7 linked regions of the Homo sapiens genome follow. The protein of the gene in region 7 purifies or fractionates together with the protein of the main gene of each other region. This does not show direct contact. Each region holds a gene or a part of one and is shown on either strand. Other genes may lie near its edges.

Region 1 (4,233 bases), on a different chromosome or scaffold from region 7:
AGAAACAATATTAGAAACCTGGTTCTGCAGAAAGAAATGAAGAGCACCGGGACAGTAAATATGCCAATAATTGTAAGAACCTTTAAAAATGAATGTGTGTGTGCATTCCACACATGTGTAGAAGCCTGATGACTAGTGAAGAAATAATGTACTGTGGTTTTATAGCCTATGCAGAATTAAAATACATGACAACAGGAGCACAATAGGCAGGAGAGGATGCTCTGAGGTACACTGAGGTTCTTACACTGCTCCTGAAGCAGTAAAATGTTTTTAAATTAGGACTATGATAAATGAAAAAGAAAATCTCTGATCAATCAAAAAAGTAACAGAACACACTCAAAAAAATAGGAAAGATAAAATACTAAAAAATAACCTCAAGAAAGGCAGCAAAGGAGAAAAAGAAAGGCAAAGAATATACAGGACAAATATAAAACAAACACCAAGATGTAAGGCCTAACAATAAACACATAATAAATATATCACGTGTAAATGTACTACAGATACCAATTAAAAAGCAAAGATTACTAAATTAGGTTTTTTTAAAGTGAGAGAAACTATGTGCTGCTTACTAGAAATACATTAAACATTTCAATCAGATAGAAAAAGATATACAAATGAACACTCAAATATAAAGAAAGATGATGTGGCTATATTAACATCAGACAAAGCAGACTTCAAGACTAAAAATTACCAAAGATAAAAGAGGAGCATTTTATAATGATAAAAGAATAAATTCATTAAGAAGATATAACAATCTTAAATGTGTCTGCACCTAATAATGAAGTTTAAAAGATATATGCATTCATACAATGGAATACCACTCAGCAAAGAACAAACTACATATTTATTTATTTATTTTTGAGACAGAGTCTCACTCTGTCACCCAGGCTGGAGTGCAGTGGCATGATCTCGGCTCACTGCAACCTCCACCTCTCAAGTTCAAACAATTCTCCTGCCTCAGCCTCCTGAGTAGCTGCGATTACAGGCATGAGCCAACACGCCCAGCTAATTTTTGTATTTTTGTCGAGACAGGGTTTCACTATGTTGCCCAGGTTGGTCTCGAACTCCTGACTTCAAGTGATCCACCTGCCTCGGCCTCCCGAAGTGCTGGGATTGTAAGCATGAGCCACTGCGCCTTGCCCAAACTACTTATTTAGACAAAAACATACATGAACTTTAAAAAGCATTATCCTGAGTGAAGGAAGCTAGGCACAAAGGAGTACATATTATGTGATTCAATTTATATAAAAAAAATTATACAGGCAAAACTAATCTGTGCTGAGAGAAATGAGACCAGTGATTGCTTTGGCAGGAGTAGGGGAAAGAGTGGATCTCTTGGGAAGGATCCTAAGGGAATTTTCTGGGCTGATGGAAATAAATGTTCTAGATCTTGATAAAGATGCAGGTTACGTGGATGTACACACATGCAAAACTGATCAAACTATACATTTAAATTCCATGTGTTTCACTATATAAATTATACCTCATTTTTAAAGTTATATTTTAAAAAGAAATTAAATGCATTAAAAACAATATTTTCAGTCTATAAAGTTTCTTATAAATCCAATAATCTATAATGCTACAGAGCTTATAATTAAAATGAGGTATTCTTATATTTGATAATTTAGTCAAAACAATCCTTTACAAAAACTGTGAAAAAGTGATATTGACATGGGCTACAGTTTGGGTTTTTAATATATTTTCATTATACTGTACTTTTAGTATTTTTTTTTTCTGCTACTAGGATTTGAATGAAGTTAGTGACAGATTATTTCCCAATCTGGAAAGAAGTGGGCACTTGAGAGAAACCCACATATGCTCTTAGAAAATCAAGTATATGGCCGGGCGCGGTGGCTCACGCCTGTAACCCCAGCACTTTGGGAGGCCGAGGTGGGTGGATCACCTGAGGTCGGGAATTCAAGACCAGCCTGACCAACATGGAGAAACCCCATCTCTACTAAAAATACAAAATTAGCTGGGGTGCTGGCACATGCCTGTAATCCCAGCTACTTGGGAGACTGAGGCAGGAGAATCGCTTGAACCCAGGAGGCGGAGGTTGCAGTGAGCCAAGATCACACCATTGCACTCCAGCCTGGGCAACGAGAGTGAAATTCCGCCTCAAACAAAAAAAAAAAAAAAAAAAGGAAATCGAGTATATGAAATTTAGTACAATGATAGATGGGTACCACAACATCAGATCTGATTTAAAATATTCAAATACATTAAAAGGTTTAAAAATTACTTTCGTAAAATACACAGGTAAGCCTCACCCACAGTCAAACAAAACTGCAACACGTGCACTGCGCCTTCTTGTTTCAGAAAGTTCATAAAACGAAATAAAAGATCTTGTTGCTCTCTGATTTGCTTCAATTCTAACTTCAGCACCTTGATATAAGAGAAAGATTAAGTTTAAGCTATATAAATGAGTTCTAAAATTGTTTATATCAAAAAGGTGTTATTGCTGAAAATTCTTACAGATGGCTTTTTATTTCTAGGTTCTGCAAATTTCTGCAAGAATGGAACCAAAGGAGAAGCCGGTTCAGTTGCTTTTTCAGGCTTTGAAAGAAAGAGAATTATTAACTCAGTAAAATTCCCACTTGATTTGACATACAAAATCAAAATTCAATGCAATCTGAAGTGTTTTCTAATATATTCAATACTCACTGGACTGTCATCTATGAAGATGATAAGCAAATGATTCACAGTATCCTAGTGGAAAATAATAAACATAAGTCAAAATAATTCCACTACTGTATTCTCCCCAGAATTCTCATAACTTGTATCATATTATGTAAGTTTCTAGAAAAATGAAAAAATAAATGGAGCAGTAGCAAAAAATCTGCACATATGTATTACAGCAGGAGTTTTTTTACATCTACAAAACAGGTTCTTAACCTTTGTGAAAATGGGCAAATAAAAGCTATTCTGATTTTGGCATTTAAAATATTTCTAAATCATTCTTGTTTCTTCAAAATCTCACTGGATCAAAGGTAGAAGCATCCAAAGTGTCCATCAATGGATGAACAGATAAGCAAAACATGTTATACACATACAATGAAATATTACTCAGCCTTGAAAAGGAAGGAAATTCTGACACATGCTACAACATGGATGAACCTTGAAGACACTATGCTAAGTGAAATAAGCCAGTCACAAAAAGACTAATACTTATGATTCCACTTATATGTGGTACCCAGAGTAGTCAAATTCATGGAGACAGAAAGCAGAATGGTGGTTGCCAGGGGGGGCTGGAGGGAGGAAGGAATGAGGAGTTATTGTTAACAGATGCAGAGTTTCAATTTCATAAGATGAAGAGTTCTGGAGATGGGGAATGGGGATGGTTGCACAACAATATGAATGTTTTCAGTATCACTGACTATATACATAAAAATGTTTAAGATACTAAATGTTATATTAAGTGTAATTTGTAACAATTTAAAAAAAAATCTTAAGTCTTACTGGATCAGCTAGGAAATCCAAAGAAGGAAGGAACACAGAGCCAGACAGAATCTCTCTTATAAGTAAGGTCAGAGATCTGGAAAAAGAAATAATAATAATTGTTTATATTTAGTGATTTATATTAGTTCTTAACTTTCAAGTGCATGTGAATTACGTAAGGATCTTGTTAAAATGGAGACTATAATTCAGTAGGTCTTGGTTAGGCCCTAAAAGTCTGCATTTCTAACAAACTCTCAACCAATGTTCATGCTACTGGTTTGCAGAACACACGTTGAATAGCAAAGAGTTAGAGTTCTTACTTGGCTAAAATAGAATATTACTTAAGAGAAGAAAAAGTATTCCCTTAACAGGAGGAACTTGGGGGACATTAGGAAAAACTCTCTATCGGCCGGGTGGGGTGGCTCACGCCTGTAATCTCAGAACTTTGGGTGGCCGAGGCAGGGGGATCACAAGGTCAGGAGTTCAAGACCAGCCTGGCCAACATGATGAAACCCCGTCTCTACTAAAAATACAAAAATTAGCTGGGCATGATGGTGCATGCCTGTAATCCCAGCTAATAGGGAGGCTGATGCAGGAGAATCGCTTGAATCCGGCAGGCAGAGGTTGCAGTGAGCCGAGATCACACCACTGAACTCTAGCCTGGGCAACAGAGCAAGACTCTGTCTCAAAAATAATTAAAAAAAAAAAAGAAAGAAAGAAAATACTTTCTATCTAAGAATACTTAAATGTTTATTATATATTTAAATTAATGTTTAATGTAATTACCTTATAATC
Region 2 (4,233 bases), on a different chromosome or scaffold from region 7:
ATAAGCCTTGGGTGCCTTGGTCCAGTGATCGAGACCAAGATGGAGCAGGAAGGGTAAATCCTCATGCAAGCATGCTAGTTTCCCTTTATATCAGGATAGCAAAAGCCTTCCTAGAATACCCCTCAACAACTACTGCTGACATCTCATTGGTAGCACTGTGTCACACAGCCCTTCCCATATGCAGAGACAACTAAGAACTCAGAGTATTTAATTTTCTAGTGTCTATAGTAGACGGAAGAAAAGAAGAGATGTGCAAGCTAACCTACAGTGCATGCCACACTAGGGAATAGTCAAATCAAGCAAGTATGTTTTACACTATTTTTAAGCATACACTTTAGACTGAGTAGAACAAATTGAAAATTTCAAAGATACGAGATTGGAAATTTTGTCTTCTGAAATTGAACTGAAGGAGTAGCTCAGCTATCCTTCAATGTGAGTAAAAAACTATCAATAAAAACTCTAGATACTGTTAAATAAAATAAGACCCAAAGCATGTAAAGCTTCTTACTCATTTTAGAGACTTTATGGGGCCTTCCTGCTAGGCCCCATCGTAAACACCCCTGGTACTCACTACAGTTCTGTCCTCAGCATTCTCCTTTTCTGTTCTACCATCACTTATGCCTACAGCTTGAAGAACCTTCTTAGTATTGATGACTCACATTTTTTTTTTTAAATTTCTAGCCCAAATCTCTCTTCTGCCCCAGAGTCATATTCCAATCACATGCTGGATATCTCCACCTGGCTGTTTCCTAAACACAATAATCTTAAAGTATATGAAACAGAATCTATTCTTGGCTTACTGAAACCTGTTCCTCTTCCTGTATTTTTCTTTTTAATCTTATCATGGCGGCATCTGGTTTCCTAAGTTTGGAGTCATTTATAACACTATCTCTTCCTCACTCCATGTTCACCAAATCCTTTTGATTTTACTATTATACAAGCTCTCAATTCCATCTACTTCTCTCAACCCTCACTGCCATAGATATACTTCAGGTTCTCATCATCTTTCATCTAAACTACCACAACTACTTTAAATTCATTTCCTTGCCATAATTTCTTCCCTCTTTCCAATCCATCCCCTATGTGCCTAGAAATCAGTTCAAAGAACAAACGATGTATATAATAATGTCCATTGGCTCTTAAATACCTAAAGGATAAAGTTTGAATTCTTTCCCACTGTTGTAGCCTCAATTTCCATGTTTTCTACTTCCCCTTCTTCCTCAAAATACCCTATACTCCACATATACTCACTGTTCCATGCATGTCAGACAATTCTGGGTCTTGGTACTCTCTCTTATCTTTTTTTTTTTTGCACAAGCTGTTCCTTCCTTTTATGGTGTCCTTAATTAACTCCCTTCTTTAGAAGTAAATTCTTATTCTTCCTAGAAGATCTAGCTCAAATGTTACCATCTCTGTGATGCTTCCTCATCTCCACAGAGCAGTTCCCTCCTCTTAAGTTTACATCTCTATTAAAATTCTGTTAACATTGTTTGTTAATTAATTAATTAATTATATTTTAGAGATGAAGTCTCGCCCTGTCATCCGGGCTGGAGTGCAGTGGCACAGTCACAGCTCACTGCAGCCTTGAACACCTAGGCTCAAGTGATCTTCCTTCCTCCTCCATCTCCCAAAGTGCTGGGATTACAGGTATGAGTCACTGTACCACGCCAATACTGTATCATTATATCTGTTCTCATCACTTGATCTGTATCACACAATATACAGGAATAGAGTGGTACTATATAAAGGTTTGATATATGAATAAACCAATTTCTACAATCAAGCTCAGTTTTCTATTTATATATTTAAGGAAAGTTGGAAGAATTAATTACAAAATATTTGGTATCTCTTAATAAAATGAATGATTGAAAATTAATATCTTGGGAAACAAACATATTGTTGGTAAAGACTATGCATTTGTGTAACTCTAAGGGCAAAAATTTGTCAATGTCCACCAAAATTAAAAAAATGTACATAATCTTTAGGCAATTCTAAATCTAAGAATTTATTCTTTTTTTTTTTTGAGACGGATTCTTATGCTTTCATCAGGCTGGAGTGCAGTGGCACGATTTTGGCTCACTGCAACCTCCACCTGCTGGGTTCAAGTGATTCTCCTGCCTCAGCCTCCTGACTGGCACTGTAGCTGGGACTACAGGCACGCACCACCATGCCCAGCTAATTTTTGTATTTTTAGTAGAGAAGGGGTTTCACCATCTTGGCCAGGATGGTCTCGATCTCTTGACCTTGTGATCTGCCCGCCTCAGCCTCCCAAAGTGCTGGGATTACAGGTGTGAGCCACTGCGCCCAGCCAGAACTTATTCTATACTTACACATCTGGGCAAAAACCACCTACAAGGATATTCATTGCAGACAGAACTGGTTGTAACAGCAAAACAGTTGAAATAAATCTCTCTCAAATGGGACTGGTTAACTAAGGTGCATATAGACAATGGAATACTACATAACTATTAAAAGGAATAAGGTAAGTCTATATGCATTTGTTACAATTTACAAAATAATTTTTCTTTTTTTTTTTGAGACGGAGTCCCGCTGTTTAGCCCAGGCCGGATTGCAGTGGCGCAATCTCGGCTCACTGCAAGCTCCGCCTCCCAGGTTCACGCCATTCTCCTGCCTCAGCCTCCCGAGTAGCTGGGACTACAGGTGCCCGCCACCGCACCCGGCTAATTTTTTGTATTTTTTAGTAGAGACGGGGTTTCACCGTGTTAGCCAAGATGGTCTCGATCTCCTGACCTTGTGATCCGCCTGCCTCGGCCTCCCAAAGTGCTGGGATTACAGGCGTGAGCCACCGCACCCAGCCACAAAATAATTTTTCAAGTGAATAAAGATACAGAAGAATGTGCATGATATACTGACAGTGTCCTTTCAAATGCATTTTCTTATTTTTATTTATTTATTTAAAGAGATGGGGTCTCTCTCTGTTACACGGGCAGGAGTGCAGTGGCATGATCACCACAGCCTCGAACTCCTGGGCTCAAGCAATCCTCCTGCTTCAGCCTCCTAAGTAGCTGGGTAGCTGGGAATACAAGTGTGAACCACTATGCCCTACAACATTTGTGTCTTTTTTTTTTTTTTTTGAGACACTGTCTTGCTCTGTTGCCCAGGTTGGGGTTCAATGGTATGATCACGGCTTAACTGCAATCTCTGCCTCCCAGACTCAAGTGATCCTCTCACCTCAGCCTCCTGAGTAGCTAGAACTTCAGGCATCTGCCACAACACTTGGCTAAATTTTTCTTGTTTCCTTTTTGTAGAGATGGGGTTTTGTCATGTTGCCCAGGCTGGTCTTGAACTCTTGGGCTCAAGGGATCAGCCCACCTCAGCCTCCCAAAGTGCTGGGATTACAGGTGTGAGCCACTGTGCCTAGCCATCTTTTCTTTTTAAAAGCTACTAATGTTAGCCAGGTGTGGTGGCTCACGCCTGTAATCCCAACACTTTGGGAGGCCTAGGCAGGGGGACTGCTTGAGCCCAGGAGTTTGAGACCAACCTGGGCAACATGGCAAAACCCTGTATCTACAAAATAGAAATTAAAAAAGTGAAAAGAGAAGACATCTTATATACATTTGTGTATGAACTACAATGCCTCTAAAAGAATGCATAAGAAACTGCTTACAGTGGTTGCCTTTGGGAACTGGGGTCAGCAATGGGAGAGTTAACTTTTCACTGAATATCCTATTGTATCTTTTAAATTTTGCATTGTGCTATGCAAATGATAGTACATAAATAAATGAGGTAATGAAACTTTACTAATAAAATGCCAATTGATTTCATAAAACTTTATAATCAAAAATTAGAATACCTTTAACAATAATTTTCAGTCTTGTTCATAGATTTTTTTTGTTTTTTGGAGGGGGAAAGTCTGCAGAAACTGTTCAGTCCTATTCAAACAATTATTCAGTAATCGTTAGGTGCTAGTGATGCAAATATAGGAAGACATGAGACTAAAAGAGCTCACAATCTAGTAGACAGAATGAACATGTATTCAAATAGTCTCAATATAAAAAGTTACTTCTCAAAGCTTCTTTAATAGCAACTGAGTATAAACCCAGCATTACAGAGACTGCCTTCTGGGTTAAATCAGCAAAAATGACAGCCCAATAAGAAAAGGATAGGGAAGTGTGACCATGATTGAATGTAGGAAGCAGGTGAAAGTAAGACCAGAGACCAATGTGAGTAGGCTAGGCTCTGGCCAAGTGACAGTGATGAAGAAAGAGCCGT
Region 3 (4,984 bases), on a different chromosome or scaffold from region 7:
ATACTTTTTTTTTGAGACGGAGCCTCACTCTGTCACCAGGCTGCAGTGCAGTGACATGATCTCGGCTCACTGCAACCTCTACCTCCCGGGTTCATGCCATTCCCCTGCCTCAGCCTCTGGCGCAGCTGGGACTACAGGCGTGTGCCACCACACCCAGCTAATTTTTGTATTTTTAGTAGAGACGCATTTCACCACGTTGGCCAGGATGGTCTCGATCTCTTGACCTCGTGATCCTCCCACCTCAGCCTCCCAAAGTGCTGGGATTACTGGCATGAGCCACTGTGCCAGGCCAGTAAAATATACTATTGAAGTTCATTCCATCTCATGGAAAGAATGTGTCCCCCCAAAATTCATACAATGAAGTTCTGACCCCCAGTGTAATGGTATTTGGAGACGGGACCTTTGGGAGGTAGTGAGGGTTAGATTAAGTCATGAGGGTGGGGCCATCAGGTAATGAGAACAGGATTCACAGTCTTACAAAAAGAGGAAAACACCCCCTTGCCCCACCCCACCCCTGTCATTTGAGAATGCAGTAAGAAGGCAGATATCTGCAAGCCAGGAAGAGGGTCCTCACCAGAACCCAACCATGCCAGCACCCTGCACCCTGGGCTCAGACTTAGAGCTTCCAGAACTTTGACAATATAAATTTCTGCTGTTTAAGCCACCAGTCTACAGTATTTTGTTATGGCAGCCCCAGCTAAGACACAGCTGTTTCTTCTTCCTTTTATTAACACGACTACTAGAAAACGTTGTTTTATATCTATCCATAGTTCATACACTATTTCTGTCACACAGCACTCTTCTAGATGTTCCTTCTAGCAGGCATTGTGTGCTGCACAGTATGGGGGTTATTCCAAACAGCAAGCCAGGAGCTTGAAATTAAAGGGCATCCCTGAAGCCAAAGCAACAGGACGGTCAGGTCTGCTCCAAACTGGGCCTGGGGCAGCTCTTTTCACAGTTCTCCACAGGTCAGGGACTGGTTGATGTGACTACAAGAAATACCCAGTGACCCCCACCTTCCTCCCAGGGCAGGAATACAGGTCCTTATAGTGTGACTCTGACTGCCCCCTGGCAGGGTACACTGCTCAGCACTGCCCAAGCTAGGTGACTGAAGCAGAGGAAAAAGAAAGGACATACAGTCCTTCCAGGGGTCTGATGCCGCCCTGCCCTGCCTAAGGAGGGAGGTGTGAGACTGGTGTGATCCCCAGATCCCAGGTCTCAAGCTGTCCTGTCTTGGGAGGAAGCTCTCCTAAAGGCCTGGGCTTGGAAGAGCCCCAGCACTTCCAGGGATCAGGCACCCAGCGGGTCTGGAGGCAGTCAGGTGGGCTGCGGTCTGCCTATCAAGTCAGCTTGCTGCCGCCCTCCCTCTAGCAGACCAATGCCTCCCCTTTCACTTTCGAGCACTCCTTCTTGGGGAAAAGGCATCCCAAGGGAGCGGGGCAAAAAAGAGCAGAAAGTCCAACACGACCACCACTTCGCCTCCAAGAAGCGGCTCCAGGAGAGCTGCAACGCCCTCTTCCATACGGTACTCAGGTGCCAGCTGGTCTTTGCCCTTCGGTTTCCGGACTCAGGCTGCGCGCGCGCGCGCTACTACCCTACAGAACTCACTCGCTTTCGGTGTAAACTAAGCCTCACGACGACGCACAGGAGAAGGTAGAACCAGGGTGGGAATGGGACGCAGATCCCAAATCCCCACCCCCGCAGCAGCGTGGGGACTCCGGCCCCGCCCCTGCACGCCCGGCCCCGCCCCTCGAGGGTTTCCCAGACTCCAGGCGGCTGCCACCGAGGGCGGCGGGGGACCCGCGCTGCATGTGTAATGGGGGCTGGGAACAAAGACGCGCAGGACCCGGCGGCCGGGTACCAGCCGCCCCGACCTTCTCGCCAGAGCTTCAATGCCCAGCTCCCCACGTTTCCCAGGACTGGCCAGGGGACGTCCCGGCGCGCCCGCCGGGGTTAGGCGCACCCCGGCACCACTGAGAGAGGGAAATCGGTGCTTGGACCGTAGGAGAAACAAGCTTTCCAGGCGGAACTCCGCTTGTTTACGCCCGCGCCCACATACCCCCAAACACACATGCGCTGGCCGAACACCTCCAGCCACACGCCCGCAGCCGCGGGCGAGCTGAGCGCTGGTCACCCACCCCGCCACGTGCCTCCTGGAGGCCCGAAGGAAGAGGGACCTGTTGGGTTTTCCATCTTACCCACCCCCTCCCCTCCCAAGTGCCCAAACAAAGCGGTCCCGCGAAGCGACCACACTCCGCATCCCGGGGCCAACGGCAGGGAAAGAGGGAGCAGGTGGGAGCCAGCACCAACAGCCCGCCGGGCCGGTAACGCGACGCAGACTGGTGGCAAGAGATGCAGGGGACTTTGGGCTGCGTGAAGCCGCCCCCTTCGCTTCGCTACACTTAGTGACTCTGAGGGACATGCAACCCTCCCCGCATGCTGCTGCTGCTGCTGCACCTACAATCCTGCCACCCCCAATGAGATCTGCCCACCCCTCTTGGCCGCCTTCCCCACGCTCAGGTTTTCCTCACTCTTTCCCTGGGTTCCACGCGCCCGCGTAGCCCGAACTCCGACCCTGAGGCTCCGCGTCCCGGCCCCCATCGCAGGGGCGCCTCTAGGAACCAGAATCCCGCAGATGACTGCACAGACAAGATCGTGCCCCCAAGTTCGGCGAGCCGGGCGCCCACCGCGCCCCCAGCCCACGCCCCCGGAGGTGAGGGCTGAATACAGGTGGTGCGGCGACGAGGCCCCGGGCCCGCCCTTTGTTGGTAAACACCGCGCGGCGCCAGAGGCCAGCCCCGCGCGCCCTCTCGGCGTCCCCGCGCCGCGCCCAGTTCTTACCGGCGCACAGCGATCCCCAGAGGAGGGCGAGGGCCACCCAGGGCGCCGTCATGTTCCGCGGCGCCGCCCCGCGCACACCCGGAGCCCGCGGGCAGGGCCGCACGGCGCTCCCGGGGCGCGCAGGGCCAGGCGGCGGCTGCGCTCTCCTTCCCGCTCCTTCCTTCGGTCTCGTTCCCTGCGCGCTTCCTGCGCCTTCGTCCCCGAGCAGCGTTCGGGCTCCAAGGGCCGGTCGGCGGGGCCGGGCTCAGGGCCGCTGCGGGCGGCGCAGGCTGCGGCCCGGGCTCCGGGGCGACGCGGGGGCCGGGGGGCGGCGGCGGGGCACGGGCCGGGGCGCGCCCGACTCAGGCATAGCGCGGCGGGGCTGGGCCCGGGCCCCGGGCGCAGGGGCCGAGTCCGGAGGGGCCATGAACGGGGGGAGGGGTGGGGGGGAGGGGAGCTGAACCGAGTCCAAAATGGCTCCTGAGCGGCGGCCACGGAGCCGAGCCAGCGGGGAAACCCGGATGTTGGATACAAAGAGGCGGGCGGGCTGGGCGGGGAGGGGGAGGGGAGGCGGGCCCTCCGGCCGCGTGGTCCGCGCCCCCCTGAGGGGCGGGGCCCCAGAGAAACAACAACACGGAGGCCCCGCCCCCATCCCGCGCCCTGTGGGAGGACGCGCGTGCACCAACTTGCTGGAGGACAGGGCGGGGCGCGCGGACGGAGGTGGCGGGAATGGGCTCCTGACCACTTTGCCCGGGAGCCTGTGGCCACTGCACTCGCAATTAGTGCCCCGCACGCTCGAGCCCAAGCTCCTGACACATGCTGCCCTACAACCCCGGAATGAGTGGATAGTCCCGGGACTCTGGCCCAGACGCCTCTGTGCCTTGGATTCCCCACCTGTGCAATGGGGGTGACAGTGAACCGTGGGAAAGTCGGATCTCTACTGATGGGCGAATTAAGTGGCAGAAAGAGGCTGACTTCCCTGAATTGACAAGCAGTCTCCCGTCTGCAATCCCTTGCCACACACTCAAAGGCACAGCTAGGGCGGGGAGTGGTCATTTAAACCCAACCAAGTGAGGGAGCGGGCAGAGTCCCGCCCCTCTAAGCCCAGCAGGTGGAAAAGGGCCTCTGGCAACCTGCTGGCCCTCCCTAATCCTATCTTGTCTTCTGCAGTTCCTGCGCCACCCACAGCGGCCCTGAGCTTCAATCTGCACTTTCAAAACTTCCCAGTTGCCTCCAGAGCCCTGCAGTTGAAGATCTTGTCTAGCACATGGTTTTGCTGTTTTCCTCACCCCGAACTCCCTCCTTGGAGGGCCATCGTTCTCTGTCTCAGATTCCACCCTCCTTATCACACAACTAGAGCTTCGGAGGAACGTGATGGGGCTCCCAACTAAGGAGGGAAAGACCATCATAGCTCAGGGATGAGGCTCCGAGATCCTCAGATAACATTAATTGTCCTCTGTCTTCTCTTGACTTGGCACATCCTTGCTTGGAGCAGGGCAGGAGCAGCTGAAAGGGAGGTGGCACCTGGAGGTCTCAGTCATTTCACTTCTCTGAGCCTCAGTTTTCCCATATGCAAAGTGAAGAGGTACACTCCCTCAGGGTTTTGCATCTTCTTAATGGCAGAAACCTAGTCAAACAAAATATTATGTAAATGTTCACTATAGGCAGGGCGAGGTGGCTCAAACCTGTAATTCCAGCACTTTTAGAGGCCCAGGAGGCTCTTGAGGTCAGGAGTTCGAGACCAGCCTGACCAACATGGCAAAAACCTGTCTCTACTAAATAATACAAAAATTAGCTGGGCATGGTGACACACACCTGTAATTCCAACTACTCGGTAGGAGGCTGAGGCAGGAGAATCGCTTGAACACAGGAGGGAGGCGGAGGTTGCAGTGAGCTGAGATTGCACCACTGCACTCCATCCTAGGTGACAGAGTGAGACTCTCTCTCAAAAAAAAAACAAGTTTATAAAGGAATGTATATTGTTCTGATTGACATTGAAATAGGGTCAACTACCCCCGGTCACCAGAGCAGCAGGAACACCTCAGGGGCCACACTTTGGAGGCACTGCCCAGAAAGATTTCTGGGTCTTTAAAAGTCCCTTCCAGTCCTGGGAAATTCTATGTGAAAATGATGGTCCCTGCTTGCTATAATCCCTACAGGTGAC
Region 4 (4,233 bases), on a different chromosome or scaffold from region 7:
AAGATGCTCTAAAAATAAAGGGTATTATCTTTATTTAAGGTTTGAGCTAATGACCTAATGGTAGAGTAAGTCTAATTTTTCTAAAAAATATATAAATTTGAATACTGCCTTTTTATCATCAAATGATACTGAGAATGATCACTATTTATAAATGTAGACATCACTGCTAATAAATAATATATTTCATCAATATAGTGAGCTAAGCTTTTCAAGCACTTGAATATACATTATCTTAATAACGGTCATAAAAACCTGTGAATATACAGTATATGACCAATATGTTACCTGGTCTTTTCCCTTCTGTGCACCTGTGGCATTTCATCACCAAGGATTATCTCTCTCATCATTTGTCTGACATTGGAACTAAAGGGCATCATGTAAGAAAGTAGGAAAGGTAGATTCATGTACTCTCAACTTAAAAGATTAGTCTATCCCTCTAACACCTAAAGCTGTTCTCAATACTCCATTTAGACTTATCCATTCATTTATCAAAGGTACTATCAAACTTTTATCTTCTCTTAGGGTATTATTTGATTTGTTATTACAGTAACCATGATAAAAACTTGAAATAACCATAACAACTCAAAATCCATAGGAAGACATTATTCACAACAGAATTATACCTCTTCCCAATGGCTTAACTATTACAAATGCTTCAGTATTTTCTTCTTTGGGGACTTAAAATCTGGAACAATTAGAGATAAATCAGAAAAATGTGTGACCCCTGTGATTATCAGAAAACCAAATGTTTTCATGTTTAAAAGATAACATTGTTCATAGTATACATTATCCTGCATAACCCTTTTCCTTCAAAATGGATATTAAAATTTAAAATCCTATTAACCCAAACAGTATCACATTTAAATATATATTGGGCTAATTGTATTAAAAACTGACATTTTTCTTGGAATCAATGTGATGCCATATTTGAGTAAGTAATAAGCCAACATTCACCATAAACTTTCTTGTCTGCCAGAAAACTAGTGTTACTTCTAAACAGTCTACTCACCATTTACGAGATGCACATTCGAAAAATAGCATTCCAGCTAGGATTAAGACAATATAAACAAAGAAGACACACAATTTCCCCTCACATTTCTGCTTCATATATGATTGGCCAAGGTCCTATAGTATGCTCCAAGTTATCAACTAATTTAGCCACAAATCTATGAAAATAATAATAAGTATAGTTATATTTCATATGTGGCTTAAGTGTGCTTAGCACTCTATACGCATTATTAATTTAATCCTTAAACTAGATGAGATAGTTTACAAGGGAGATAAACAAGGCTCAGAGAGGTGAAGCAAGTTGCCCAACAAAAGGCAGTCAGGATTTGAACCCAAGCCTATGATTCCAGGGTTCAAGATCATAGCCATTAAGCTCTACTGCCTTTCCACTAAGAAATATCTGAGAGTGAGGCCAGGTGCAGTGGCTCATGTCTGTAATCCCAGCAAACTGGGAGGCTGAGGCAGGAGGATTGCTTGAGCTCAGGACCAGCCTGAGCAACATGGTGAAACCCTGTCTCTACAAAAAATACATAAAATTAGCCAGGCGTGGTGGCATGCACCTGCAGTCCCAACTACTTGGGAGGCTGAGGTGGGAAGATCACTTGAACTTGGGAGGTTGAAGCTGTAGTGAGCCTTGACTTTGCACCACTGCACTCCAGCCTGAGTGACAGAATGAGACCCTGTCTTAAAAGAAAAAAGAAACATCCAAGAGTGGAACAGAAAACTTTGTTGAAATGAAGTGATCTTTAGAAATGTATCACCATTTTTTTAAAAGTGGGACCAAGAAAGAAAACTCTACAAACTACAAGCAAAACTCTTATCTCCTTTTACTGAATAGACTGTAAAAGCACTTCACCTGTAGACGATAAAGACCATCCACTAATCACAATCCTCTATACCCATGTCCTTACAAGATTTGAGCAGTAACACAACAATATAACAATGTCAGGCCCTGTGAACTATGTCTGGCATGGAACAACAACAATGAAAGTGGGACTGCAATAATGAAAATCAGTTGAAAGATTTAGTGTTTGACTTACTCCATTTACTTTCACCCCCTTTCTTCACTTGCCTTTTTCTTCTTCATCTTTCTCATCTGGAGCAAATTAAACCATCACGTTGTAACAGGCATTCCTCCAATGCTCTGCTGGCCTATTTTCAAAACCATCTCAAACTGTAGAAACCTTTTATCAACCTCAAAGCACTTAATCCTTGACAACTTTCTTCTAGTATTAACTATTTCAGTGGCCAGCAATTAACAAACCAATTTGTATACTATGCTGTAAATGAAAGCAGCTTTAAAGTTAGCAAAAGTGAACTTCAAATCAGTGAGACAGGCAAGTGTGCACAGAACAAGGCAAAGCTTTGACACCATGAACTGTGCTGCTTTAAGTTTGTGGTCCTTGTGTTCTAATAACCTCTAGCCTTTTTTAAAAATTTTTTTAGATTTTTTTTTTGAGACAGGGTCTCACTCCGTCACCCAGACTGAAGAGCAGTGGTGTGATTGTAGCCCACGGCAACCTTGAACTCCTGGGCTCAAGGGATCCTCCTGCCTAAACCTCTCGAGTAGCTGAGACTATAGGCGTGTGCCTCCATGCCCAGCTAATTTTTAAATTTTTTTTTGTTCTTATAGAGACAGGGTCTCGCTTTGTTGCCCAGGATGGTCTTGAACTCCTGGGCTCAAGCAATGCTCCCGCCTAGGCGTCCCAAAGTGTTGGGATAACAGGAGTGAGCCACTGCGTCAGGCCTAATAACCTCTATTCTGAAAATATCATTCCCTAGGCAGGTCCTTCATAGTCACTCTTAGCCATTACCCACCAACATTAAAAACTCTGTAAGAACTCAACACATGTTTAGATTTAGACCATTAGACCAAGGGTAACCAACATGTACCCTTGAAATTGCGCAACAGAGAAAAACATTTATGTCCATTAACTTTCCCACAGGTCATCATGGGAATTTACGGCTATGAAAATGTTTGGGTGTTTGACTAAAAGAACAGATTCGGGCAGTACAGCACCACCTCAGTGCTTTCCAAAGGGTCATCTCAGGGTTACCACAGCTGCCCTTGCAAGCAGAGACTTTCTCTGAAATATTGGGGTTTGCCTCAGATTTTCTATGAATATTGCGTTCTAAGGCAGAATGTATCTGAATTTGTTTAAAGATTTTTAAATAGCTACCAGTTAATGTTCTCCTAAATCTCTGTGTAAAACAGATGCTTCAAGAAAATACAAGCTGCTTTATTTTGTGGCTCCTGGGAGCACCACCTTGTCACCACCCTGCTCAATCAGTACATGTGCTCCACTTTGAAGGACCCAAAGTAATGGAAAGAGCACTAGACAGAGATTCTATTTGTTTAGACTAGCACAATGCTTGGAATATAATAGGCACTTAATAAGTATTTGTTGAATGAATTGGCAGAATAGTTTCAAGGACTAGTTTTCAACTGCAAGAAAACTGCAGAAAAAATCCTTTGAGACATGTAATTACTGGCAACCCCACAAAACCGAAGGAAAAAAAAACAGGCCAGGTACAGTGGCTCATGCCTGTAATCCCAATACTTTGGGAGGCCACAGCATGAGGATCACTTGAGGCCAGGGGTTCAACACCAGCCTGGGCAACATAGTGAGACCTCATCTCTACCAAAAACAAAAGAAAATACACCAATTGTGTATTGGTAAAGAACAAGAAAATCCATGTTGTTTTAGTTTAGTTAGAAAGGAAAAGGCTGTCAAGATGTTATATAAAGATAATACTGAGGGGGGTTGTGTTAGGATAATTAAAACCCAATTCATATCATGGACGCTAAGAAGAGTTTTCAATTAACTCTTGGGTTTTCCTTTGCATGTTTTTAATCTTAATGATGTCAAGTTTACAGAGGAAAATAAAGAATTGTAACGCACACTCATGTCCCCATGTAACCATGCAGGGCGCTGGGGCTAAGGAAGGTCAGGAATCATGTCTCATTTGTTTTCTACCTTTCTCTTTTCTACTTTTCTATTTCTTTTTCTTTTTTTTTTTTTTTTTTTTGAAACTGAGTCTCGCTCTGTCACCAGGCTGGAGTGCAGTGGCACGATCTTGGCTCACTGAAACCTCCAACTCCCTGTCTCAAGCGATTCTCCTGCCTCAGCCTCCCAAGTAGCTGGGATTACAGGCACATGTCACCACGCCCAGCTCATTTTTGTATTTTTAGTAGAGACAGGGTTTCACCATGTTGGTCAGGAT
Region 5 (4,233 bases), on a different chromosome or scaffold from region 7:
TTTCCTCTGCCTGTAGTTTGATAGTGAGAAAAGGCTACTTCAAGGTTATAATATACACCTAAGGTTAGGTGCTTTTGCTACATTCTATTTAAAAATTCATAGTGGTTGTACAAACTGAGCCCAAAGTCACTTTAACCAAACTGGCTGAGAGAATAGAAAGGCATCGAGGAAGTTCATTATTTCCTATTTTAGGGAAGAATAGGGTAAGTATAGATCTCCAAGGCAGAGTTAGGTTCCTAGATACACCCAGGCTGAGCAAAAAGCCTAAGCCTAAGCCTCTCTCTAAATAATACTCACCACCACAACACAACCTTAGGTCTTTAGATAGTGTTGCTCTTTTTGTTACTTAAAATCCCTGACCAGAGAGTACGTCTTTGGATTGAATCTAGGACCCTGCATTGTAAATTCAGTGTTATTCTAATAAGAACATCAACGGGGGTTAGTTGTTTATAGAACCAAACAGATTCTAAAGTTCACAGGGGAGTAACTGCAAGAACAGCCATAAGATTTTTTTTAAAAGAACAATGGGGAGAAGACAAAGTTGTCTTAAGTAGCTCTCAAAGGTTTTATTAAAACATGATAGTAGGCCAGGTGTAGGGGCTCACACCTATAATCCCAGCACTTTGGGAGGCCAAGGCGGGCAGATCACTTGAGCCCAGGAGTTCAAGATCAGCCTGGGAAACATGGCAAAACCCCATCTCTACTAAAAATAGAAAAAATTAGCTGGGCATGGGACACATGCAGTCCCAGCTAGCTAGCTATTCAGGAGGCTGAGGTGGGAGGATCGCTTGAACCCGGGAAGTGGAGGTTGCAGTGAGCCGAGATCGTGCCACTGCACTGCCGCCTGGGTGACAAAGTTAGCCCCTGTCTCAAAAACAAAAACAAAACATGAGAGTAATTAAAACTGTGCTACTGGCACAGGAATAGACAAATAGATCACTAGGACAGAAAACAGTCCAGAAAAAGACTAACATATATGGAAATTTAGTTTATAATAAGGTAACATTCTAAGTCAATGATAAATTACTAATGGAAAAATGGCCTCTGTCTGGGAAACAAAATGAGAACTCTAGCTTTAAAAGTATACAGAAAAGTAATGCTAAAAAATAAATTTTGGCTGGGTGCAGTGGCTCATGCCTGTAATCCCAGCACTTTGGGAGGCTGAGGTGGGTGGATCACCTGAGGTCAGGAGTTCGAGGCCAGCCTGGCCAACATGGTGAAACCCTGTCTCTACTAAAAATACATAAATTAGCCGGCTGTGGTGGTGCACGCCTGTAATCCCAGCTACTCGGGAGGCTGAGGCAGGAGAATCTCTTGACCCCGGGAAGTTGAGGTTGCAGTGAGCAGAGATTGTGCCACTGCACTCTAGCCTGGGCAACAAAGCGAGACTCTGTCTCAAATATATAAATAAATAAATAAATAAATTTTAAGAAAATATAATGGCTGGGCACAGTGGCTCATGCCCTTAGTAATCCCAGCACCTTTGGAGGCTGAAGCAGGAGGACTGCTTGGGCCCAAGGAGTCCAGCCTGGGCAACATAGTGAGACCCTGTCTCTACACAAAATAAATTTTTTTTAAAAAAATGGCTGGGCACGGTGGCTCACGCCTGCAATCCCAGCACTTTGGGAGGCCGAGACGGGTGGGTCACTTGAGGTCAGGAGTTCGAGACCATCCTGGCCAACATGGTGAAACCCATCTCTACTAAAAATACAAAAATTGGCCAGGCATGGTGGCGGGCGCCTGTAATCTCAAGCTATTCAGGAGGCTGAGGCATGAGAATTGCTTGAAACCAGGAGGTGGAGGTTGCAGCAAGCCAAGATCACACCACTGCACTCCAGCCAGGGCAACAGAGCAAGACTGTGTCTCAACAACAACAACAACAACAACAACAAATTAGCCAGGCAGGGTGGCAAGTGCCTGTAGTCCCAGCTACTTGGGAGGCTGAGGCAGGAGGATCGCTTGAACCCAGGAGGGTCAAGGCTGCAGTGGGCCTTGATAGCACTGCCACTGTACTCCAGCCTGGGCAACAGAACAAAACCCTGTCTTTAAAAAACAAAAAACAAACAAAAAAAGCCCCATAATTTTAAGATAGGAAAGTCTGGCCTACTTAGTAGGCAAAATAAAAACCCTACATGCTGTAAAGGAATAACATGAATTACTTAGGCCTTGAATTTAAAGCTTTTGTATGATGAGATACCATAAATAAGCAAAAGACAAACGATAGGCTGGGATTAGTAAAAAAATCTGCAATGTGCATTACATATGTATAACAGACAAAAGAGCTCTTATATACTAATAGTTACAAAATGCCAACACAATTGAAAAATGGCCAGAGGCTCTACGTAAGCAAGTCATGAGAGAATCATATATAGCCAATTATCACAAAGATGTTGAACCCACCCAGACCTAAACTAGCAAAGATGCTAGTAAGATGAAAATGCAAATTAAGATGAATTATATTTTTAGTAGCAAAACCAAAAAAGATTATCATCAGGTTGTAAGGAGTTAATACAATTACTTGTGACACAGTAATTTTACTTTTAGGAATCTATTCTACATAAATACACATGTGCAAAGAAATATATGTGCAAGGATGTATACTAGAACATTATTGGGATTAACATGAAATTGGAAATTACCTAAATGTTAGAGGAATGGTTATATTAAGGTATATCTATACTGTGGAACACCTGTGATATTATGACTTGTAAGTTCCTCTGGCTTCCTGGAACAGCTCCTAAAATCCTTAAATCTCCAAAGTGGTAAGTATCTTTTGGATGCTAATGATGACTGATGGCTGGGGGATCCTGGATAGCCTCAACAGGGGAGCTGGTTGCCAGGGGTATCAACCATGAGATCAGTCCCATCCCCCAACCTTGGGGAAGGGAACGGGGTACTGAAGGTTGAGTTGATCACCAGTGACCAATGATGTAATCAATCATGCCTGTGTGATGAAACCTGCAAAAGAACCCAAAAGGACTAGCTTTGGAGAGCTTCTGGATAGCTGAACACACAGAGGTATGGGACCTGGATAGAGGTGCACCTAGGGAGGGCAGGGAAGCTCTGAACCCCTCTCCCCCTCCCCATGTCTTGCCCTATGCACTTCTTCCATCTGCCTCTTCATGTTTCCTTTGTAATAAACCAGTAAGTGGAGGTGTTTCCCTGAGATCTGTGAGCCGCCCCAAAGACGTCCCAAGCAAATTAATCAAACCCAAAGAGGAAGTCATGGCAACCTCTTTATACCCAGCTGGTCAGAATCACACATCACAACCTGGGGCTTACAACTGGCATCTGAAGGGGGGCAGTCTTGTGGAACTAAGCCCTTAGCCTGTGGGATCTGACGCTGTGTCCAGGTGGAAAGTGTCAGAACTGAACTGAATTAGAGGACACCCAGCTGGTGTCCACTGGAGAATTAGTTATTGGTGGTGAAAAATCCCCACACACGTATTGGTGCCCAAACGTGAAGTACTCCAGAGTGTCAGAGTAGGAAAAACCAAAGTATTTTTCCTATGCTTTGGTTTTTCCTATCTCCTTTAGAACTATGCAGCCATAAAAAGAATAGGTAAGCTATACATAATTATGACATGTCAGTTAAAAATAATATTAAGGGCTGGGCATGGTGGCTGATGCCTGTAATCCCAGAACTTTGGGAAGCCAAGGTGGAAGGACTGCTTGACCCCAGGAGTTTGAGACCAGCCTGGGCCAACCTGGCCTCTACAAAAAATAAATTAAAAAAATTAGCTGGGCATGGTGACACACACCTTAGTCCTAGCTACTCAGGAGGCTGAGGTGAGAGGATCACTTGAGTCTTGGGAGATTGAGGTGAGAGGATCACTTGAGTCTTGGGAGATTGAGGCTGCAGTGAGCCATGACTGAGCCACTGCATTCCAGCCTGGGTGTCAAGGTGAGACCTTGTCTCAAAAATAAGTAATAAAAAATAAAATAGAATTAAAATAACTAAGGGGACAAAAAAGAATATATGTAGTGATAAGAAAAGATCTTAGGTCTATGGTTCCCAAACTGCACTGAGGTCCCTGGGTTGGTGAGCAAACTCACAGAGGCACCACAGAATAATATAAATTTTCAAGAGACTTCATGTGTAATATTACCTTGAGGTTACTTCATGCTTTTAACATTAGATTGCAAAACATTCAATGAAGTCAATCTTTCCAAAGCTGGGTTTTGGTGGTGCTAGATTTGGAAAGTTTTTCCCCTCCAAACCTCATGTTAAAA
Region 6 (4,233 bases), on a different chromosome or scaffold from region 7:
AAAAATACAAAAAATTAGCCGGGCGTGGTGGCAGGCGCCTGTGGTCCCAGCTACTTGGGAGGCTGAGGCAGAAGAATAGCGTGAACCCGGAAGGCGGAGCTTGCAGTGAGCCCAGATTGCGCCACTGCACTCCAGCCTGGGTGACAGGGCAAGACTCTGTCTCAAAAAAAAAAAAAAGAAAAAAAAAAAAAGCCGGGTGCGGTGGCTCACACCTGTAATCCTAGCACTGTGGGAGGCCGAGGCGGGTGGATCCCAAGGTCAAGAGATCGAGACCATCCTGGCCAACATGGTGAAACCCCGTCTCTACTAAAAATACAAAAATTAGCTGGGCATGGTGGCACGTGCCTGTAGTTCCAGCTACTCGGGAGGCTGAGGCAAAAGAATTGCTTGAACCAGGGAGGCGGAGGTTGCAGTGAGCCGAGATCGCGCCACTGCACTCCAGCCTGGCAACAGAGCAAGACTCCATCTCAAAAAAAAAGGGAGAAAGGAAGGATGGACGGAAACCTCGACTTGGAGGTGCCAGGGCAGCAAACATCCTTGTTCTGATGCAAGCAGGCCAGGCCTGTGGGAGAATGAGCCAGAGAAAAGCTAAGTCAAATCCCAGTGGTGTGTGTCCTGGAACTAGAGCCCATCCTGGAGCTCAGCCAAGAACACTAAAAAAAAAAAAAAAAAAAATCTGGAATGATTTTTTGGATCAAATTTGGACTTCTCTTGAGTGTTGCTGTATTCTTTACAGTAATTTGATATCTTCTATTATGAGCCTAACAAGAGGATCCAAGCCACTTAATCCCAGCCAAACTGCTGTATGCAATTACCATAGGTTCCTGTTTGGATTCCTGGCACGAAATTGCCTGGCTTCCTTGAGTTTGACTTGGATCCCTGTGTTGTCCCAGCTCTTCAGTGTCCATCCAGCAGAAACTAACAGGGCGCCTGCTGTACCCAGGCATTCTGCTGGGGCTGGGGACGCATAGAGAGGACAGGGTCCCTCCTTCACAGCTCATAGGCTCTTCAGGGGCAATTCCAGCACATAGTGGCGGTGTTCTGAAGGAGGAGGCTCTGGGAGCTTCATGAGCCCCACAATCTTCCTTTGAATGTGAGGGAAGGCTTCCTGGAGGAGGTGGCATCTAAGCTGAAATGAGTGGGACTTTGCCAGGTGTGTGGGGAAGGTGGTCCAAGAAAGGGGAACAGCATGTTCAAAGGCCCAGAGGCAGGAGGCAGTAAAGGGCCCTTTCCATCCTGGCAGCTGCCAGCCTTACCCCACTGGACCCTTTCAGGGTTCTTCATGAGACTGGGTTTTTTTTAGAGACAGGGTCTCACTCTGTCAGCCAGGCTGGAGTGCAGTGGTGTGATCACAGTTCATTGCAGCCTCAATTTCCTGAGCTCAAGCGATCCTCCCACCTCAGCCTCTCAAGTAGCTGGGACCACAGGTATGCACCACCACACTAGGCTTTTTTTTTTTTTTTTTTTTTTCTTGAGACGGAGTCTCGCTCTGTCACCCAGGCTGGAGTGCAGTGACGCAATCTCGACTCACTGCAAGCTCCGCCTCCCAGGTTCACGCCATTCTCCTGCCTCAGCCTCCCGAGTAGCTGGGACTACAGGCGCCCGCCACCATGCCCAGCTAATTTTTTGTATTTTTAGTAGAGACGGGGTTTCACCGTGTTAGCCAGGATGATCTTGATCGCCTGACCTCGTGATCCACCTGCCTCAGCCTCCCAAAGTGCTGGGATTACAGGTATGAGCCACGGCACCCGGCCTTTGTTTTTTCTTTCCTTTTTTTTTTTTTTTACATTTTTAGTAGAGACAAGGTCTCACCATGTCACCCAGGCTGATCGCAAACTCCTGGGCTCAAGCAATTCTCCCACCTTGGCTTCCCAAAGTATCAGGATTATAGGTGTGAGCCACCACACCCAGCTGACATTGGGCATTTATGGTACAAAACCTCCCTCAGGTACAACGGCTCCAAAAGAGCCAGTTTCCAGCATTGAATTCATCGTGGACTTACCCATGTGTGGTTCTGGCACCCTGCCCGGGGCTGGAGGCCTGTTCTTGGCCTTGGTCCTTTAGAATAGGAGTAAATTTGGCAACATAGGAGGACACCCAGGATACATTGTTAAGTTAAAAAAAAAGAGATTCTAAAATAGAATGTATGTATGGTTCTATTTTTGTTAAAAGTTATGTTCTCTAAGTCTTTTTAAAAAGTTTGAACTGTCACAGCCAAGAAGGGTCTAAAGAGACATGACAGCTCAGTGGTGTGTGAGTCCTGGATGGGATCCTGGAACAGAAAATGGATATCAGGGGAAAAACTGAGGAAATCTGGCTCATATTTTGTTGTGTGTAGATACCAGCATTATCCAGGTTTTAAAAAGGAGAAAATCCTGGCCGGGTGTGGTGGCTCACGCCAGTAATCCCAACACTTTGAGAGGCCAAGGTGGGAGGATGGCTTGAGCCCAGTAGTTTGAGACCAGCCTGGGCAACATAGCGAGACCCCTTCTCTACAAAAAAAAATAACAAAAATAGGCTAGACATGGTGTTGCCCACCTGTAGTCCCAGCTACTTGAGAGGCTGAGGTGGGAGGATCACTTGAGCCTGGGAGGTTGAGGCTGCAGTGAGCCGTGATTGTGCCACTGCACTTCAGCCTGGGCAACACAGTGAGACCTCATCTCTAAAAGAAGAAGAAAAAAAAAGGAAATCCTGCAATGTGTGACAACATGAATAAACTCTGAGGAAATAATGCTAAGTGAAGTAAGCCAGGGACAGGACAAATACCGCATGATTCCACCTATAGAAGGAATCTGAAATAGTCAAACTCAGCAGAAGCAGAGAGGAGAAGGGTGGTTGTCAGGGGCTGGGGAATAGGGGAAACGGCATTGCTGATCGTTGCTGTGTAAAGTTTGAGTCCTGCCAGCCGAATACATCCTAGAGATGGGCTGTACAGCAGAGCGCCGTCAGTGTTGGACACTTACAATCTGTTAAAAGGGTAGGACCCATATTAAGTGTTCTCGCCATATAATAAAAAGTGTAAACACTAAGGAAATCAATGGACTTTATAGTTAATAATATCTCAGTCTGGTTCGTTAATTGTAATAAATGTACCATGCTAACATAAAATATTAATAATGGAGGAAACCCGGTGGGTGTGAGGTATATGGGAGTTTTCTGGATTCTTTGCAGTTTTTCAGCAATCTAAAACTGTTCCAAAATAAAGTTTAGACAGACAACACCATGTTTTCTTTAGAGAGTGGGATTACATGTGAGTCTTCCCCCTTTGGCTTATCTGTGTTTTCTAAGTTTTCTACAGTAAACATGTATTATTTGTATAATATATTAACGACAGAACAGAACATTAGCTAGACCATGCTGACTGCACCAGCCCTGGTGGCAGAGAGTTCCAAGCATGGCAGCCGCCCTCACTGTGAATGCCGTAAGGCCCCAGGTGCTGTCCAGGGCACTGGCCTGGGAAGGGGCTGCCTTCTTTTGATATGCAGAGGCCCCAAGTCAGTCCAGAGGAGACAAGAATCCATTCACCTGCCCTTGGCTATGATGATGTTTTCAGCATTGCACTTAAAAAAAAATCTTCCACTTTATTTTATTTTAATTTTTTGAGATGGAGTCTTGCTCTGTTGCCCAGGCTGGAGTGTGGTGGTGTGATCTCGGCTCAGTGCAACCTCTGCTTCCCAGGTTCAAGCGATTCTCTTGCCTCAGCCTCCCGAGTAGCTGGAATTGCAGGCGCCTGTCAGCATGCCCGGGTAATTTTTTTGTATTTTTAGTAGAGACGGGGTTTCACCATGTTGGCCAGGCTGGTCTTGAGCTCCTGACCTTAGGTGATCCACCCGCCTCAGCCTTCCAAAGTGCTGGGATTACAGGCGTGAGCCACCACACCAGGCCCAAAAATACTCCACTTTAAAGAAAATATCATTTGGTAATCAGAAAAAGGTGACATTTTGTCAATGTGTATGAAAAAAATTATGCATTTAATACCTGTTCATTGTAGAAAAATTGGAAAGTACATAAAACTCAAAGAGAAATTAAAAGCACTGGAATCTACTGCTCAGGAGAACTGCTTTTTACATTCTTGGAGTTTATCCTCCCAGACTTTTAAAATTCACCAATACATAGTATAAGTACAGTATAAGCATAGATGACTTTTTATAAAAACTGGGTCACACAATGGATATGACTTGATCATTTGCTTTTACCTCCCAGCAATATCTTCTGATCAGTTTTCTATGTTAA
Region 7 (4,751 bases):
CTGGAGTGCAGTGGCGCGATCTCGGCTTACTGCAAGCTCCTCCTCCCGGGTTCACCCCATTCTCCTGCCTCAGCCTTCCGAGTAGCTGGGACTACAGGCGCCTGCCACCACGCCCGGCTAATTTTTTGTATTTTTAGTAGAACAGGGTTTCACCGTGTTAGCCAGGATGGTCTCGATCTCCTGACCTCGTGATCCGCCCACCTCAGCCTCCCAAAGTGCTGGGATTACAGGCGTCAGCCACCGCACCCGGCCTCTTTTCTGATATTTATGACCCAGAAGTTCTCTGTACCTTTCCACTGATTTATGTAAATACTGTAAATTATTTCCTTAAACAAATTTCAGGTAGACTAAAATATCAGTCCTATACATTATCCTTTCCAAAACACATTCACTAATGGTGTCTAGGCAGACACTCAAAAGAGAACAATATATCTAACAATTTGAATAAATAAAACATCTTTTCTATTAATAGAACTGCAGTTCCAATATAACAAAATATTTGGGTAAAATGATTATATTTAACCACTTTCCTTTAAGGTATTTGTTTCACTTAAGTCTACAGATATCAGCTAGACTTCCCAAAACAGAATTTGAAAACAAATGGAGAAAGCATGAATTATATAAAAAAAATTAATCTCCAATACAGCAAATAATGTTCCACTATTTACATAACTAGCTGATTCTGAATATGACAGAAACATGAAAAAGGAAACAAATGAAAATGTTCTGGTCATCCTTACCGAAAGAGAAAACTAACCTGAACTCGCCGTTCTTCTTTGTTTGCATCTACCTTATCAGACATCAGAAGAGGCTCGCTTTTCTCACAGCTCTCTTCACTAAGGAGCGTGTCTGCGTAGTTGGGCTGGGGAAAGATCAGGTGACTCTTCCTCGAGTCCGCGGTGAGGGAGACCTCGTGGGAATAGGTCTGCAGGAAAGCCCGAACCCCATCCACGCCCACAAAGTGCGAGGCGGGCACACCCGCCAACCTGCTGCCTTCAGCCTGAAGCAGGCGTGACTTGTGCCAGCGCCTCAGTCTGAGCACCAGCAGCACGATGACGAAGGCCAGGAAGACGCAGGAGACTGCAGCCACTGCCACCACAAGATAGAGTGTGAGGTCCAGATCCTCAGGGTCAATGGGGGTCTTGATACTGCCTAGGTCAGCCAGGATGTCAGGGATCCTGTCGGCCACGGCAACGGTGACCGTGAAGGTGGCTGACAGAGGGGGCTGGCCATGGTCTTCGACGGCCACCACGAGGCTCTGCTTGAGCGCGTCTCTGTCCAGCAGGGCTCGCGCTGTGCGCACCTCGCCCGTGTGCAGCCCAACCGCAAAGAGTCCTGGCTCGCTGGCCTTAAGCAGGCGGTAGGACAGCCAGGCGTTCTGGCCTGAATCTTTGTCCACCGCTACCACCTTGGTCACCAGGTAGCCAGGTTCTGCGGAGCGAGGCGCCAGCTCCACGCCCGTGGAACCGTCTGTGGGGAGGGCGGGGTACAGGATCTCAGGCGTATTGTCGTTCTGGTCCAGCACAAACAGGCTCAGCGACACGTTGCTGCTAAGTGGAGGGTTCCCACTGTCGCTGGCTGTCACCCACAACTGTAGGTCTCTCAACTGCTCATAGTCGAAGGATCTCAGAGCATACAGGACACCGGTGTCAGAGTTAATGGATACATAGGAGGACAAGGGCGCCCCCTGAAATGTGTCTTCAGCCAGGGAGTAGGTGACTCGAGCGTTGTCGCCGCTGTCGGGGTCATGGGCTGTCACAGAGAAGATAGAGACACCTCTGGGATTGTTTTCTGTGACAGAGGTGGAGTAGGAGGCTTGAGGGAAATTGGGTGGGTTGTCATTAACGTCTGCTACTTTCAAGGGGATGTGGCTTTCTGTAGAGAGGGGCGGGGTTCCATGGTCCATGACGGTTAAAGTGATATTATAATCTGAAGTCTCTTCTCTGTCCAGGTCCCTAGTTGTTAATAGGTGATAGTAATTATCAACTGACTTCTCCAATTTAAAAGGCAAATTCCTAGGAATAGAGCATGCAATCTCACCATTTTCTCCAGAATCACCATCATGTACGCTAAACAGCGCGATTACAGTTCCGGGAAGACAGTCTTCAGAGATCGAACTGGTCAGAGAGGTGAGGATCACTTCGGGGGCATTGTCATTCACGTCCTGTACTGTGACCACCACCTTAGCGCTGGCAACAAGAGCGCCTCCATCCTGAGCTACCACTTCCATGAGGTAGAATCTGGATTCTTCATAGTCCAGTGATTGTAGAGTTGAGATTTCCCCCAGGTTGGAATCAAGTTGGAAAGTCTCCGAAATTTTTTCTTCTTCATTGCGAAAAGAGTAGGTCAATTTCCCGTTTATTCCCTCATCTGGATCCGTGGCGGTTAGCATGAGCAGCCGAGTGCCCACAGGTATGTTCTCTGGAACACTCACGCTGTACTCGGATGGGGTGAACAGGGGCGCATTGTCGTTTGCGTCGAGGACCGTAACACGGATGTGCGTGGTGCCGGAGAGTACCGGGTCTCCGCCATCTAAAGCTGTGAGGAGGAGGTCGTGAACAGTCTCTTTCTCGCGGTCTAGGGGCTGTTCCAACACCAGCTCCGGATACTTTTGTCCATCAGTTCCGCTTACCACATCCAGAGAGAAGTGCAGATTGGAGCTGAGCTGGTAACTCCGGAGAGAGTTCACACCCACATCCGCATCCCGCGCGAAGGGAAGCACTAACCGTGTCCCTGCAGCCGCATTTTCATTAACTTTTACTTTTAACTCTTCATCCCGGAAACGCGGGAAGTTATCATTAATATCGATTATTTCTACTTCTACTCCATAAATTTTCATTTTGTTCTCAACCAAGATGTTAAAGTTCACCACACACAGTGGGCTCTGAGCGCAGAGCTCCTCCCGGTCTATCCTGCCCGCGGTGACCAAGCTGCCGCTTCGCGGGTTCAGGGCAAAAAGCTGCGTCCTACCTCTGGAGACGATGCGGACTCCGCGCTCCGCCAGCTCCTGGGGCTCCAGCCCAAGGTCCTTGGCTATGTTGCCGACGAAGGAGCCTTTGTCCAGCTCCTCCGGCATCGAGTAGCGGATCTGCCCGGATCCTGGCTCGCACAGCGTCCCCAGGAGCATGAAGGGCAGCAGCAGCTCTCCGCAGCCCCAGCCCCTAGGTGGACTCGCCATTGCCTTCTCTCTGCCCAATTTTCTCTTAGTTCTGGTTCAGCCTGCTGTTTCCTTATTTATCTAAAGCCGATGGGTACATATTCCCTGACGAAAATGGGCGTGGAGCGTTGGCTTTTCGTAGGAGCTTGTCTGGTCTGTGTGTTTAGTATGGAGGGAGCAGAGTCGGGTCGCCTCTGCGGCAGCTTCTTTCCCACTTTGGTCAACAGCGACACTCAGAGTCCTAACCAGTGACTGCATCAAATTCCATTTTTATTTCTCCTAAGTTTAGTTATAATTTTATTTCTAATAATGTTGCCATATCCTTAATGTTTAACTGTGTAGCGTTGTTTATGACCGTTAATTCAGCTTTAATTCTGAATAGCAAGACTTCCACAATCCCTGAGATCAATATGATTATTAGATCTCAATACCTTACAAAAATTTTATTTAATGCGTCATCGGGGGAGCCTATGTCCTTTATTTACCTCTTATCTATATTTAGTCCATTAAATTAGGACATTCAAATTCTTACCTTTGTAGGATTCAAGATTTCATCTCCTTATTAGGATAAATTTAGGAAAACGTGCTTATTTGCATATAAGAATACCAAGGAAACAAACCCAGTTCTCCATGCACCTTTCCAAACAGGCCTACTGATTTATGTAAGTTATATTAGCTGTCATATGCAGAAGAAATAAAGATCTTTGTTACTTGTGAGGACTTTGAGAAAGTCTCTCCACTATCTCAGACAGCGTTTGAGTTGGGTTAACTATGCATTTTTATGTTTTTCTATTACCATGTTCAAATATTTGTAGTTCCAGTGACAACCAGTATAGTAACTGTGGAGGATGGGGTTTTATTTCATCATCCATGCAGGAAAGCATGAGCAGATACTTGTCGAGAAGTACTGAGTGACCTTTCTATGTTGAGACAGATATTTACTGCTATCATCTTTATATGACAACAGAAATAGAAAAACCTCTTGATTGAAAAAAATGGACATTTCAGAAAGTCATTTTATTTAATAACACTTTCATAGAAAACTAAGAAAATAAAAATTCTATATAATTAGGAAATTCAAAAGCAAAGTTTTAAGTAATATTTTGTAGAAAATGATGTGAACATAGGTTGTAAGATTTTTCTCAATGTGTAGTTTTTCTTAAGAGCAATTTGTTAAAATGCATGTTAGAGAATGATTTCTCACATTTGTTAAATGCACTCTTTCTAGCAGACACCTCAGACCTCAAACATTGCCTGTCCTTTAGAAATACATTTGTGATTCCAAGACATTTAGCTTACTGAGTGTTGGTCTTCAAGTCAATGGGACAATGTCCTACCCATGCCCTGTGATTAACAAGCCATGCCATTATGCAAAAGTCTTTCTTCTTTGTTTCCCAATTTCCAAAGCCTACTAAAATGAAGACTCTCTTTACTCTGAAGTATTATGATTCTAAGAGGAAGTAAAACTAAAATTTGAATAACAAAGAGCCTGAAGGTGAAACTAATTGCCTAAAGTCTCAATAGCAACAAATCTGCAGAGAGAAGTAATGTAAAGATGAGGAAGAAAAAGAAATACAGTGCAATATCTCATGTG

What was found.
Region 1: the proteins of PCDHGA5 (region 7) and SNX14 purify together in Homo sapiens (affinity purification with mass spectrometry; 2 studies listed by BioGRID and IntAct, with this or other methods). This does not show direct contact.
Region 2: the proteins of PCDHGA5 (region 7) and KLHL20 purify together in Homo sapiens (co-immunoprecipitation; 3 studies listed by BioGRID and IntAct, with this or other methods). This does not show direct contact.
Region 3: the proteins of PCDHGA5 (region 7) and ACVR2B purify together in Homo sapiens (affinity purification with mass spectrometry; 2 studies listed by BioGRID and IntAct, with this or other methods). This does not show direct contact.
Region 4: the proteins of PCDHGA5 (region 7) and KLHL13 purify together in Homo sapiens (co-immunoprecipitation; 2 studies listed by BioGRID and IntAct, with this or other methods). This does not show direct contact.
Region 5: the proteins of PCDHGA5 (region 7) and GINM1 purify together in Homo sapiens (affinity purification with mass spectrometry; 2 studies listed by BioGRID and IntAct, with this or other methods). This does not show direct contact.
Region 6: the proteins of PCDHGA5 (region 7) and EPHX1 purify together in Homo sapiens (affinity purification with mass spectrometry; 2 studies listed by BioGRID and IntAct, with this or other methods). This does not show direct contact.

Annotation. Positions count from the first base shown.
Region 1 is NC_000006.12:85,544,842-85,549,074, forward strand, and holds part of SNX14 (sorting nexin-14), read right to left. Parts: intron 3,536-4,233; coding exon 3,460-3,535; intron 2,710-3,459; coding exon 2,665-2,709; intron 2,557-2,664; coding exon 2,476-2,556; intron 2,386-2,475; coding exon 2,271-2,385; exon of another isoform or gene 2,243-2,270; intron 1-2,242. UniProt on the Homo sapiens protein: Plays a role in maintaining normal neuronal excitability and synaptic transmission. May be involved in several stages of intracellular trafficking. Required for autophagosome clearance, possibly by mediating the fusion of lysosomes with autophagosomes.
Region 2 is NC_000001.11:173,717,408-173,721,640, reverse strand, and holds part of KLHL20 (kelch-like protein 20), read right to left. Parts: intron 1-4,233. UniProt on the Homo sapiens protein: Substrate-specific adapter of a BCR (BTB-CUL3-RBX1) E3 ubiquitin-protein ligase complex involved in interferon response and anterograde Golgi to endosome transport.
Region 3 is NC_000003.12:38,452,232-38,457,215, reverse strand, and holds the start of ACVR2B (activin receptor type-2B precursor), read right to left. Parts: upstream 3,327-4,984; 5' UTR 2,894-3,326; coding exon 2,842-2,893; intron 2,830-2,841; exon of another isoform or gene 2,602-2,829; coding exon of another isoform or gene 2,532-2,601; exon of another isoform or gene 2,396-2,531; intron 1-2,395. UniProt on the Homo sapiens protein: Transmembrane serine/threonine kinase activin type-2 receptor forming an activin receptor complex with activin type-1 serine/threonine kinase receptors (ACVR1, ACVR1B or ACVR1c).
Region 4 is NC_000023.11:118,106,360-118,110,592, forward strand, and holds part of KLHL13 (kelch-like protein 13), read right to left. Parts: intron 1-4,233. UniProt on the Homo sapiens protein: Substrate-specific adapter of a BCR (BTB-CUL3-RBX1) E3 ubiquitin-protein ligase complex required for mitotic progression and cytokinesis.
Region 5 is NC_000006.12:149,586,455-149,590,687, reverse strand, and holds part of GINM1 (glycoprotein integral membrane protein 1 precursor), read right to left. Parts: intron 1-4,233.
Region 6 is NC_000001.11:225,833,935-225,838,167, forward strand, and holds part of EPHX1 (epoxide hydrolase 1), read left to right. Parts: intron 1-4,233. UniProt on the Homo sapiens protein: Biotransformation enzyme that catalyzes the hydrolysis of arene and aliphatic epoxides to less reactive and more water soluble dihydrodiols by the trans addition of water.
Region 7 is NC_000005.10:141,362,758-141,367,508, reverse strand, and holds the start of PCDHGA5 (protocadherin gamma-A5 isoform 1 precursor), read right to left. Parts: upstream 3,348-4,751; 5' UTR 3,179-3,347; coding exon 758-3,178; coding exon of another isoform or gene 737-757; exon of another isoform or gene 1-736. UniProt on the Homo sapiens protein: Potential calcium-dependent cell-adhesion protein. May be involved in the establishment and maintenance of specific neuronal connections in the brain.